4 separate regions of the Homo sapiens genome follow, and all the other regions are reported to be linked to region 2. Evidence: microRNA targets listed by miRTarBase, many of them from high-throughput screens and not tested one by one. Region 2 holds a microRNA gene; each other region holds the end of a gene's coding sequence.

The links. Region 2 holds the annotated microRNA hsa-let-7a-5p (UGAGGUAGUAGGUUGUAUAGUU, at 1,661-1,682, shown strand). A microRNA usually pairs through its seed, bases 2 to 8, with sites in the 3' UTR of a target mRNA and lowers its output. Matches are read on the target gene's strand: a 7mer-m8 pairs with bases 2 to 8, a 7mer-A1 pairs with bases 2 to 7 and ends in A, and an 8mer does both.
Region 1: the mRNA of PM20D2 is a reported target of hsa-let-7a-5p. Seed matches in the 3' UTR shown: 7mer-A1 at 2,280-2,286.
Region 3: the mRNA of PLOD1 is a reported target of hsa-let-7a-5p. The part of its 3' UTR that is shown has no 7-base or 8-base seed match.
Region 4: the mRNA of CEP135 is a reported target of hsa-let-7a-5p. The part of its 3' UTR that is shown has no 7-base or 8-base seed match.

The regions. Positions count from the first base shown.
Region 1 is chr6:89,161,570-89,164,700 of GRCh38, reverse strand. It overlaps PM20D2 (peptidase M20 domain containing 2), which reads right to left. Exons shown (of 7, transcript NM_001010853.3): 6 at 2,811-2,918; 7 at 1-2,592. The coding sequence ends at 2,438. Among named protein-coding and RNA genes, the nearest start is that of PM20D2, 17 kb to the right of the region's middle.
Region 2 is chr9:94,174,302-94,177,444 of GRCh38, forward strand. MIRLET7A1 (microRNA let-7a-1) reads left to right here and starts at 1,656; the gene lies at 1,656-1,735. MIRLET7A1HG (miRlet-7a-1/let-7f-1/let-7d cluster host gene) reads left to right here. Exons shown (of 5, transcript NR_170278.1): 2 at 1,564-1,664. It overlaps MIRLET7F1 (microRNA let-7f-1), which reads left to right and starts at 2,046; the gene lies at 2,046-2,132. It overlaps LINC02603 (long intergenic non-protein coding RNA 2603), which reads right to left. Exons shown (of 3, transcript NR_160773.1): 3 at 2,268-3,143.
Region 3 is chr1:11,974,214-11,977,356 of GRCh38, reverse strand. It overlaps PLOD1 (procollagen-lysine,2-oxoglutarate 5-dioxygenase 1), which reads right to left. Exons shown (of 19, transcript NM_000302.4): 19 at 1,820-2,704. The coding sequence ends at 2,549. Among named protein-coding and RNA genes, the nearest start is that of MFN2, 4.7 kb to the left of the region's middle.
Region 4 is chr4:56,024,379-56,027,521 of GRCh38, forward strand. It overlaps CEP135 (centrosomal protein 135), which reads left to right. Exons shown (of 26, transcript NM_025009.5): 25 at 123-236. The coding sequence ends at 225. Among named protein-coding and RNA genes, the nearest start is that of CRACD, 23 kb to the right of the region's middle.

The sequences.
Region 1 (3,131 bases), not on the chromosome of region 2:
ATTTCCAACTTGTACCTGTGTTTAATACTGCTTTAGTGTGCTAAAGACATTAACTGATTGCTTTCCTAAATCTAAGGATTATATAGTTTTAGTATAAATATATATCATATATTTTCGTAAAACTTTGACAAAACCAAATAAGCAAGCCTTGTTTTAAGTCCACGCTCCTGCCACTGTTTACAAAATTTGATTTAATGATCAAAAAACTATTGGTTGTCACTCTTCTGTTACAACAATCTTCCTTGTGAACTGCCACCCAGTTTTTACATAATAATAACAAGCAATAGAAAAACCAAAGAAATTATGTTAATCTTAGCTCTTCCTTTGCAAGTGTCTTTTCTTCTTACACCCAGTGCTTAGAAATAGGCACTCCTCAACCAGTGTTCACTGAATTCAACTGCTGAAATTGTAACAGTTAAATTATCAACACAACTCTTAATAAATAAACATTCCTTTGGGAAATTGTGGGAAATCAAAACACTTTTAAGTTTATACAAGTATTCATAAACATAAAATATTCTAGTTTATCCTAATGCCCTAGCTCTTATGAGTGCTATAGAGGCAATTAAAAAGGGAAAATTTCTTGAGTAGTTCACATGTGGAGAATTTGTTAAAACCGAAAAGCAGTCCAAAATTTTTAAAAGGCATACTAAATATTAGCTATACTCACTATTACATGGTATATAGCAATTTAGTAATTCATAGTACCACATATTTTACTTTAAAAGCAGGTCCCATATTAAGGCCTGCTTTTAAAATTGCCACTAAAAAGAAAATATTTTCAATTTGTATATTTAAACCATTAATTTAGATAACATCTTTTAAAGTCTACAAATTTAACATAGCCAAGAGTTGGTATTTGAGAAAAAGGTTTCAGTACAGGGTGTGAACAATGAAAAATTATAAAGGCATGTAATAAAAATGTTCCATAAAAACAAAGATACCTCAAGCAGGTCCACCTATACCTCTAGTTTAGTTTAGAAACTAATTCAGTATTTTAAGAATCATATAATTTTAAACTTTGCACTAAGCCTAACCTTTTTAAAAAATGGTCAGGGCCAGGTGCAGTGCCTCAAGCCTGTAATCCCAGTGCTTTAGGAGGCTGAGGTGGGAGGACTGCTTGAGTCCAGGAGTTCGAGACTGCAGTGAGCTGTGATTACACCACTGCACTCCAGCCTGGGAGAGCAAGAACCTGCCCATTAAAAAACCAAACAAAAATGGGCAGGTGTGGTGTCTCATACCTGAAATCCCAACACTTTGGGAGGCCAAGACAGGAGGATTGCTTGAGCCCAGGAGTTTGAGGCCAGCCTGGAAGCTACAGCGAGCCCCTGTCTCTATTATGTAAAAAAATAAAAATTTTTTTAAAAAAGAGGTTTTCTTATGTGTACCTGAAGCAAAGTAGTAAGTATATCTTTTCTTCTCCACGTTGTACAAGAGATGACTGTAAACACAAAATTAAAACTCATCTTAGGATCATGGTCCATCCACGAAGCTACTTTAAACTCTGATGATTCCAAGCAAGGAAGCAATATTTGCTTATTCAAAAAGTACTGAATATTCAGAGTAAGCAATATGCTAGATACTGTAACAATTTAAAAATACCAACACACATGTGTATTAAAAAGACACTGGCAGGCCGGGTGCGGTGGCTCATGCCTGTAATCCCAGCACTTTAGGAGGCCGAGGCAGGTGCATCACCTGAGGTCAGGAGTTCGAGACCAGCCTGGCCAACATGGTGAAATGCCGTCTCTACTAAAAATACAAAAATTAGCTGGGCATGGTGCCACACACCTGTAATCCCAGCTACTTGGTAGGCTGAGGCAGGAGAATCACTTGAACCTGGGAGGCAGAGGTTGCAGTGAGCCGAGATTGTGCCACTACACTTCAGCCTGGGCAACAGAGCGAGGCTCTATCTTAAAACAAAAAAAGGAAAGACACTGGCTTCAAATATACAATCTGGTAGAGGAATTAATATACGATTAGAGAACAAGTTTACCACCCTATACCACAAAACACTCTCATGGGTGTCAATTCTGAATATAAGGTTTGAAATCTCTTAAGCTTTTAAAAATACACATAACATTTAAGGCTTACAAAAAGGTTTACTAACATATTTTATAAAAATGATGCCATGTATCCTCCAGGTTAAGAAATGGTATCACTACTGTGAAGGTGAGTGGTTGCGGGGTAAAAAAAAAGAAAGAATGGCATCACATACCAGCTCCTGTAATATCATAATCCTATCAAGTACGGATTTGCAAAAATTTTCACTTTAGATATGAGGTAATTAATATGTTTTCTCCACACCCTGTCCTCACTTATCAGGTAAAAAGAATTTTACTCCTTTAAGATTAAAAAACAAGCATGCCTTCATTAAAAGAGATTAAAAGAAAAAAATCATCACGTCTTCTTGATTTATAAGTGGCCCCTAAGTCTTTTATTCTACTGCATTTACAAACTGTTCTTCTTGAAGTTTCAGTTTAAAGTCCTCTCTGATTCCTTCCAGTAACTCTGGTTTAAAAATAACATCCAGTGCCGTCATTGCCAGAGCTTTGGCCGTCCGCAGAGTGTAGAACTGAGCTTCCTGTGACCCTAAAAGGTAGAGAAAATAAAATACCTCCTTACTTATTTAAGCTGTATTTAATTTCACAGGTTAGCTACCCGTATCTCAACTGGCTCTCCAACTGCCCACCACAGTGCAGTATTTACTGAGGTGATGTTATGTAGTGAAATAGTAGGTTAAACAGAAAGGCAGCTACTACCAGAAGAAGAGTGTGTGTGCCAAAACAGTCACATCCAACAACACTTACCAGCAGCTTCAGTGTACTGTTCAGTATGATTCAAGGCATTAGATCCAATGTGAAAATATGGATGAATTCCAGGAACCACAAAACTAACATTTCCAAAATCCGTAGATCCTTGGAACACACAAAGTTAAGAAAAGTCTATTTAAGTATATGTGGTTAAGTATTCTGGAGTTATGAAGTCACAGTCCCTGTTAGAAGAGACGCAGAGAAGTGAGCTTCTTGGAGAGTTGTCCGTATGCTCATGCTTTCATGGGCTCACCTTCCACTGAGTCTGCCACCCACTCCCCTGTATCAGTCACATCTCTCATGAAGGTCACTGCAAAC
Region 2 (3,143 bases):
CTGGCATGAAGATGTGTTTTTCAACTCAGAGCTGTCCAAACCCTGACACTTAAGGGGTTTTTATGGAGGTTTCATACTTAGGCATGATTGATTACATTATTGGCCTTTGATGATTGGCTTACTCTCTGTCCTCTCTGCTTTACCTGGAGGTTGAGGGGGTGAGGCTGAAAGTTCCACCCCTCTAATCACACCTTGGTCTTTCTGGTGACTATCCCCCTCCTGAAACTACAGGAGCCACCAATCGACTCAGTAGCATTAAACAGACATTCATCACTTAGGAAATTCTGAGGGTTTTAGGAGCTGTATGCCAGCCAGGATCTTCAAATGGAGACAAAGACGAAATACGTGTTTCTGATTCCACTTAACAACTGTTTGACTTGTCTACAAGTTTTGTTCTCCAAAGCAGCTGCACCATTTCACATTCCCACCAGCAATCTAAGGGTTCCAATTTTCTCCGCATCCTTGTCAACACTTTTATTAATCTTATTAGCCATCCTAATGAATAATGTATCTTTTCATGTGCCTGTTGGCCATTTGTGCTTATGAGTCATATCTTTGGTGAAATATCTATTAAAATATTTTACCATTAAATTAGGTTGTTTTAAGTTACTTTAATGTGTGTTTTGCACACCAGTTTACAAAGAATGCAGATCCATTTTTTTTGCATGTGGCTATACAGCCGTCAGCATTATTTGTTGAAAAAACGATTCCCAGTTGAATTGTCTTGTCATGGTTGAAAATCAGTTGACCCATGTATGGGTTTATTTCTAGACTTTAAATTCTATTATATTGAGCCGTATGTTTTTTATTACGTTTTGTAATTTTAAAAATTAGTGCTTTTGGTTACTAAATCACTACAAAATAAATTTAGTCCCTATCTTAAAAGATAATCTTCGTAGTAGCTACCTCCTAAATATGAAGTCTGTAAATTAAAGGGTAATAATACAGTTTAGATTACTTGGGTTTATTAAAGATTTTGGACTCTGCCTTCAATCCACATATTACCTTTCTATCTAAAGGAAAGGATCCTGACCCTGAATCAGATCCAGGTGATTATCTTTGATTTAGTCCTAATAAGACCACTTAGTGTTTGCTCGCATGGGATAAATGAGTAGGTTCCTTTAAAAATTAGTTTCTATTTGTGTGTGTTTTTTATATTATCTCGTTGTATGTTAGTGCATTTGGATTATGCATGATGTACAGGACTTTTGGGTTTTGAAGTCATTGGATTTTTAATTAGAGGCTGTCATGTTTTTCTGTAATGATTTTTTGTTGTTTCTTGAAGGATAAGTTATTTCATGCATTTTCATTTGTAGGAACTGTAAGAAAACCAGCAGTTAATAATAGTAAAAGGTGGTGGTAAGAGGGTGATTTCTGAATCTTGTAAATACATGGTTTTAGGAGCGGATTCAGATAACCAAGCATTTAAAATACTATTAATGAAATACAGGAAATGAAACCACAGCATAGATTATGCATGTAGCCAAAATGTTCAGTTAAACTTCATTTTCAACGTAAGTGAATGAAAATGGTCTAATACTATTTTTCTTATCACTCACACAGGAAACCAGGATTACCGAGGAGGAAAAAAAGCCTTCCTGTGGTGCTCAACTGTGATTCCTTTTCACCATTCACCCTGGATGTTCTCTTCACTGTGGGATGAGGTAGTAGGTTGTATAGTTTTAGGGTCACACCCACCACTGGGAGATAACTATACAATCTACTGTCTTTCCTAACGTGATAGAAAAGTCTGCATCCAGGCGGTCTGATAGAAAGTCAGTTAACTAATTGTACAATATTTAAGATTAACTTGTCTTAAAGAGATGTAGTGCAGCATTTGTTTATGGCCTGGAAATAAATTAATTTAGAGATAAAGTCTGTAGCAAGTACACTGGATGGGGGTGGGGAAACCTTTTGCTTCTTGTCTTATTTCTCTGTGTCAGAATAAATGTATTTTTTTATTTTGATTTATGCTGATAATTTTATGTTGAAATTTTCTTTCGAAAGAGATTGTACTTTCCATTCCAGAAGAAAACATTGCTCTATCAGAGTGAGGTAGTAGATTGTATAGTTGTGGGGTAGTGATTTTACCCTGTTCAGGAGATAACTATACAATCTATTGCCTTCCCTGAGGAGTAGACTTGCTGCATTATTTTCTTTTTATTTAGATGATATTAAAACTCAGAAGAATTAATTTTGACATTTTGTATTTACAGTTTATCAGTTAATTTTCTCTGTTCAAGTAGTACAGTAGGCACAGATTAACATTTAAATTTTTCACATATGGTATATTTCAGAAATTTGAAGTTAAGCAAAAATTTTAATGAGTAGAGAAAGTAAGTAGCCTTCAGGAAATCTTCATAGAGGACCAGGCCCTTTTGGAATTGTGAATAGGTTTATTGCCTTACATCCTGGTACACATGTCCAAGGTCAGGTCCTGGGTGGTAAAGGTAAATACAAATTGGAAGGGCACTGTGTGAGCCAAAATGAGTCAGATTAGTCATGATTCATTTCCAGTTTGGGTTTTGGGTGGTCTTGGAGAATGTTGTAAGCACTGCTTCATTGATAGGTTGATTGAGCCAGACTTTACTCAGCAGCCTGGAAAAGGAGAGATGGGCTCTGGGTTCTACCTTTGCTCACTGGTAAGTTGCTAAGATTTCAGCTTTGCCCTCAAACCCTGAAGTAGTCCTTCATTCACACAGTGGGATCACTCGAAAATGTCAGATGGGGAAGTCCATAGGTTGTTACTTTAAAGAAAATAGAAAAAATGCTGGAAAAGGTTTCTTCAATTTTAATACCCATGAAGGCCCATGTTTTAGCTTTCCTCCGATGGGCAAACCATACACTAACTTGGGCCTTGTAATCAACAAGCAAGGCTAAAAGCTCTCTAAGTGCTTGCTGTTTAAACTATTTTGTGTTGGAAGAAGAGTTGGAAAAGAGGCAGTGTGGAGGTGAGGGAGAAGTTCCCTCCCTCCAATCATTTCCAATAAATGGAAATTTAAGGAGAAATTTGTGTTTATCCTTAATATCTAAGATAATCACTGTGCAGTGCCATTGGTACTTTTCATGAGAGTAGAAACATCAAACTTCCTTGGATGGGCCCAACCCAGGTGACTTAACTCTGGACCAAATGTATGCTTTTT
Region 3 (3,143 bases), not on the chromosome of region 2:
GTTGTTGTTGTTGTTGACAGGTTATTGCTCTGTCACCCACGCTGGAGTGTAGTGGTGCAATCTTGGCTCACTGCAACCTCCACCTCCCAGGTTCAAGTGATTCTCCCAGCTCAGCCTCCCAAGTAGCTGGGATTACAGGCACCTGCCACCACACCTGGCTAATTTTTGTATTTTTTTGTAGAGATGGGGGTTTTGCCATGTTGGCCAGGCTGGTCTCAAACTCTTGACCACAAGTGATCCACCCGCCTCAGCCTCCCAAAGTACTGGGATTACAGATGTGAGCCACAGCATCCGGCCCCCCATGTTACCTATTTTGTTTGACTTTTTCATGGTGAAGATGAGTTTGTAATCAGAAAAAAGTTAACAGTTAAAAACAACCCTATGCCGGGCACAGTGGCTCACACCTGTAATGCCAGCACTTTGGGAGGCCGAGGCAGGTGGATCATCTGAGGTCAGGAGTTGGAGACCACCGTGGCCAACATGGTGAAACCTCATATCTACTAAAAATACAAAAACTAGCTGGGCGTGGTGGCGGGTGCCTGTAATCCCAGCTACTCGGGAAGCTGAGGCACGAGAATTGCTTGAACCCGGGAGGCAGAGGTTGCAGTGAGCCGAGATCATGCCATTGCACTCCAGCCTGGGCGACAGAGTGAGACTCCATCTCAAAAACAAAAACAAAAATAACCCTAACATACACAAACACACACACAGGCTTGTGTCGGCACAAACCAGCTCAAGAACGTTCAAAAAACAGATTAGACATGGTGGCTTTCAGAGAGAGGAACTGAGCAGCTGGGGGGAAAGGATGACAGAAAGATTAAGATTTGTGCTGTTTGAATTTACAATGAGTCAATTTTGAAAATGAAAAGACTAAAAAATCTTTTTTTTTTTTTAATTGAGATGGAGTCTTGCTCTGTCACCCAGACTGGAGTGCAGTGGCCCAATCTTGGCTCATTGCAACCTCCACCACCTGGGTTCAAGCGATTCTCCTGCCTCAGCCTCCCGAGTAGCTGGGATTACAGGCGCATGCCAACACAACCGGCTGATTTTTTCATATTATTAGTAGAGACAGGGTTTCGCCACGTTGCCCAGGCTGGTCTCAAACTCCTGACCTCAGGTAATCCGCCTGCCTCAGCCTAAGTGCTGGGATTACAGGTGTGAGCCACTGTGCCTGGCCTCAAAAATCTTTTTTAAAAGACTTTCAGGCCTGGGATGGTGGCTCACGCCTGTAATCCAGTACTTTGGGAGGCCGAGGCGGATGGATCACCTGAGGTCAGGAGTTCGAGACCAGCCTGGCCAACACGGTGAAATGAAACCCCGTTTCTACAAAAAATACAAAAATGTGTCAGGCATGGATACCTATAATCCCAGCTACTCAGGGGTCGAGAGGCTAGCATGACCTTTCTTAAAGGCTCTAAAAAGAGGGCTCTTGGCCGGGCACGGTGGCTCATGCCTGTAATCCCAGCACTTTGGGAGGCCGAGGTGGGTGGATCATCTGAGGTCAGGAGTTCAAGACCAGCCAGACCAACCTGGTGAAACCCTTTCTTTAATAAAAAAACAAAAATTAGCCAGGCGTGGTGATGGGTGCCTGTAGCCCCAGCTGCTCGGAAGGCTGAGGCAGGAGAATTACTTGAACCCAGGAGGCGGGGGTTGCAGAAAGCGGGGATAGCGTCATTGCACTCCAGCCTGGAAGACAGAGTGAGACTCTGTCTCAAAAAAAGAAAAAAAAAAAAAAAGAGGGCTCTTAAAACCTCTCTCCCTGCAGACACTCACACCAAGACACACACACACCCACTCGCCCTGAGCATCTTCCCTTCAGTGGTTTAAATGACCTTTAATAGAAACTCTCCAGTTTCTGACGGTCTGTCCCTCTCTTCAGAGGCATCCAGGACAGGGTGACCCAGTGTGGTGTGTGGACCTGTCACTCCCCTCCCCACAGGCAAGTAGAAGATCGAGCTGTGCACAGATGCCTCTTCTGTCTCCCAAGAGGTTCTCTGGAGTCGCTGTCTCCAGGGGACTACGGTTTGCTCTCATGACCAGCCATGGAGGCAGAAGTCCCAGACTCAGGGCAGCCCTTGGAGTCTGATCCAGGTGTCTTTACCCCAAAACTTGAAGCAGAAGTCCCTGGTGCAACACCTGTGCCTGGGAGAAGCTCTGGCCATGGCTTCTCACCCAGACAGTCTTTCTGGGCAACTTGGGGAAGCCCCTGTTCTGCTCAAGTCTCACCCCATGGAAGAGGTGGGGGAAGGGGGCCTTGGTTTTTCAGGAAGACAGGTTGGAGAGCACGAGTCACTACAAAGCAGTAAAAGTGAATGGTGTCTCCAGGGGCTGGGTCCAGAACACCACGGAGAGCCCCAGCCATAAAGGTGTGTTCCGCCTCTGGCCTGCAGGAATCTCTTTGAATCTCTTTGATTGGTGGCTCCAAGAGCAATGGGAAGTCAACAGCCAGGAGGCTGGACTGGGTTCCCTGGGACCCCGAGGTCCCAGAGGCTGCTGGGCAGTGGTTGTCGGCAAAGAAGAAAGGTCCAAGAGGGTCAGGCCTGGCCAATTAGGGATCGACGAAGGAGACTGCGATGTAGCGGGTGCCCCTGGTGGTGGGGAGCCCCTCATGGTAATGCGTGAGTCGTCCAGGGTGCATGAGGGTCCAGCCCTTCCTTGGGGCTCGGATGGAACAGTTGTAGCGCAGGAACCGACAGCCCCCGCCCTGGGAGACAGAAAGCATCAGTGGCCTTTCCCCACCGCCCCCCTGCCCGTCTGTTCTCCCGTCATGATCTCCTGTCATGGCCAAGTGGCCCTCAGCACTGCCTGCCTGGGGATGCCTTCTGGAGTGACAGCCACAAGCGCTGCTAAGGAAGACACTAAATGAAGAGTAGTGGCCAGGAGTGGTGGCTCACGCCTGTAATCCCAGCACTTTGGCAGGCCAAGGCGGGTGGACCACCTGAGGTCAGGAGTTCAAGACCAGCATGGCCAACATGGTGAGACCCCATCTCTACTAAAAATACAAAAACCAGCTGGGTGTAGCAGCGCACGCCTGTAATCCCAGCTATTCGGGAAGCTGAGACAGAATCACTTGAACCCAGGAGGCAGTGAGCCGAGATCGCGCCACTGTACTCCAGCCTGGGCAACAGAATGAGACTGTCTCA
Region 4 (3,143 bases), not on the chromosome of region 2:
AAATTTAATAGTAATACTAAGTAATTTATTACAAATTAGCTAATAACTCTTATATTTGTTTGCCACTTTTTGATTTTCCCTGGTGCTTGAATATATCTCTCTTGTTTGATCTTTACTAACAGAGAACGAGCAATCCAAGAGATGCGTCGACATGGTCTTGCTACACCACCCCTTAGTTCCACTCTGAGGTCTCCTTCACATTCTCCTGAACATAGAAATGTGTAATTATCAGAAAGGTATGTATGTAACACCAAGGACAGGCAAAACTAATCTGTGGTTGTAAAAATTCAGAAAGTAGTTTTCTGCATCAGGAAAGGGGAGATTGCCTGGTAAGGCGTTCAGGAGAACTTCCTGGAGTAATGGAAAAGTTCTATATCTTGGTGATAGTAGTTATGTGGGTATATACAATTGTAAAAATTCATAAAACTGACCATTTACAGTGTATGCTTTTTTTTTTTTTTAAGAGATGGGGTCTCGGCCAGACACAGTGGCCCACACCTGTTATTCCAGCACTTTGGGGAGGCTGAGGCTGGAGGATCACCTAAGGCTAGGAGTTTGAGACAAGCCTGGGCAACACAGTGAGACCTCCACCTCTACAAAAAATACAAAAATTAGCCAGGCATGGTGGCACACACCTGTAGTCCCAGGTACCAGCTGCTGGGGAGGTGGGGGAGGATACTGAGGCAGGGGGATGGCTTGAGCCCGGAAGGTTGAGGCTGCAGTGAACTGTGATTGCACTATTACAGTCCAGTATGCATGACAAAGCAAGCAGCTATCTCCAAAAAAACAAAGAGTTCTCACTATCTTGCCTGGGCTGGCCTCAAACTCCTGGGCTCAAGCAGTCCTCCCACCTCAGCCTCTTGAGTAGCTGGGACTACAGGCTGGTCCATGCATTTTATCGTATATAAATTATACCTGAATTTAAAAAGAGAAGACATCTACAGCATAACGTTAAATGACAATATGAGCTATCACAGGATATTATTTGATGAAGGGCTAAATTCAGGCTACAAATAATAGGTAGTAAAAATGTAGACAAAGCATAGAAACAGTAGTACACATGGTACAGTAGTAACCTGGCAGGAAGGGCAGGCTGTGGGGGAATAATGAGGGAGAGAGGTTTGGAAGGTAGAGTGGGATATATAGAGTATTATATTGAATGTGAAGCTAAATTAGAGATTGTGGACTTTATTCTGTAAGTCAAAAGGAACGTGAACGTCAGTCCTCCTGTGTATAGGATGGGTACAAGGGAAGGGTCAAGATGAAATAACTGTTTCTGGTAGATTAATTTCACAACTGTGTTTGAACCATATTGGAAAGGATAGGAACTAGAGGTAGAGAGACCAGTAAGTGGTATGAAATGAGCAGTATAATAGTTCAGGATTAGTATAATAACATTGAAAGCTAGGACATAATTTTTAAAGTAAACCATGAAATATATACAGAAAGGTACCATATCATAGATACATAGTTCAATGAATTTTTTCAATGAACAAATTGAACACATCCAGGTAACCTGCATGAAAATCAAAAAAAAAAAAAAATAGGCCAGGCACGGTGGCTCACACCTCTGTAATCCCAGCACTTTGGGAGGCCGAGGCGGGTGGATCACTTGAGGTCAGGAGTTCAAGACCAGCCTGGCCAACATGGTGAAACCCCGTCTCTACTAAAAACAGAAAAATTAGCTGGGCATGGTGGCACGCACCTGTAGTCTTAGCTACTTGGGATGCGGAGGCAGGAGAATTGCTTGAACCCAGGAGGCAGAAGTGGCAGTGAGCCCAGATCGCGCCACTGCACTCCAGCTTGGGTGACAGAGTGAGACTCCATCCAAAAAAATAAAATATAAAGCCTGGCACAGGAGACTGAGGTTGCAGGACTACTTGAGCCCAGTTCAAATCCAGTCTGGACAACAAAGCAAAACCCCATCTCAAAAAAACAAAACAAAAACAAAACAAAACTAACTTCTCTTTGGCGTCAGTCATAAGCCCTGGTCTAAAAGTAACTGTCCTGACTGTTAAAAGTGTAGATTTCTTTTTGCTTACTTTTAGACATTTTATAAATGAAATCATGTTCCTGGCTTCTTTTTCTCAACAGTACATTTGTGAGATCCATCCATATTGTTGTGTGTACTTGTAGATTGTTCACTCTTGTTGCTGTGTATGGAATGCCATTATGGAAACTTACTACAATCCAATTACTCCTCCTTCTGTTCATAAGCACTTGGCAGTTTCCAGTTTGGGCTATTACAAATAGTGCTATGGTTATACTTAGAAGTGAAATTGATGGATCACTGGATATGTGTATGTTCAAGCTCTAGGAGATATGGTAAACTGTTTTCCAAAGTAGTTGTAAAGTGCCAGGATGCATTTGACTGAGGAAGGATCAAAGGGATGTGCTGATTCACTGGAGATGGGAATGAGTGGGAAAGAAACATGAGTCAGACCCAGGCTTTGACAGGTAGTGACTGTGGAAAATGCATACTCATTGACAGAAATAGTTATGCCAGTCTTGTTTAAATTGATACATTTCTTTGCCTCTTTTGATAGAAATATATAGAAGATAATTAAACATTTCCTCTGACTCAGAATCCTCATTGTGAACATTAGTTATGTGCTATTCTTTGACGTACTGATGCCCTCAAGTTTGTAGGGCCTTGGTTTAAATGATTCCTGATTGCTCTGCTTCTGCTTTTGTGTTTGATTAGGGCATTTATTTTTCTCTTTCACTTTGAGGACCACTTCTCAGTGTTCACTGTAGTCACTGTGTCCTTCTTGAATTGCTGTGTTATTTTCATGTGATCAGATGGTGGTTCACCTTCTTGTTACAAAGGATTGTAAGAATGTGACACAGACATTTTCTCATGTTTGATTCACAGCTGCAGTTTAGATCAGGGGTTGGTTGGTAAACTAGGATCTGCAAGCCAAATCCATACCACTGCCTATTAGTGTAAATTAAGCTTTATTGGAGCACAGCCACACCCATTTGTTAACAGATTGTCTAAGACTGCTTTACTACAGTGGCAGAGTTGAGTAGTTTTGACAGACCCCATGTCCCACAAATCTAAAATATTTACTGCCTGTCTCTTGACATCATGTAGCTCTGGAAAACTCAACTGTAGACCTGTAAGAAAATAAGAGTGAAAG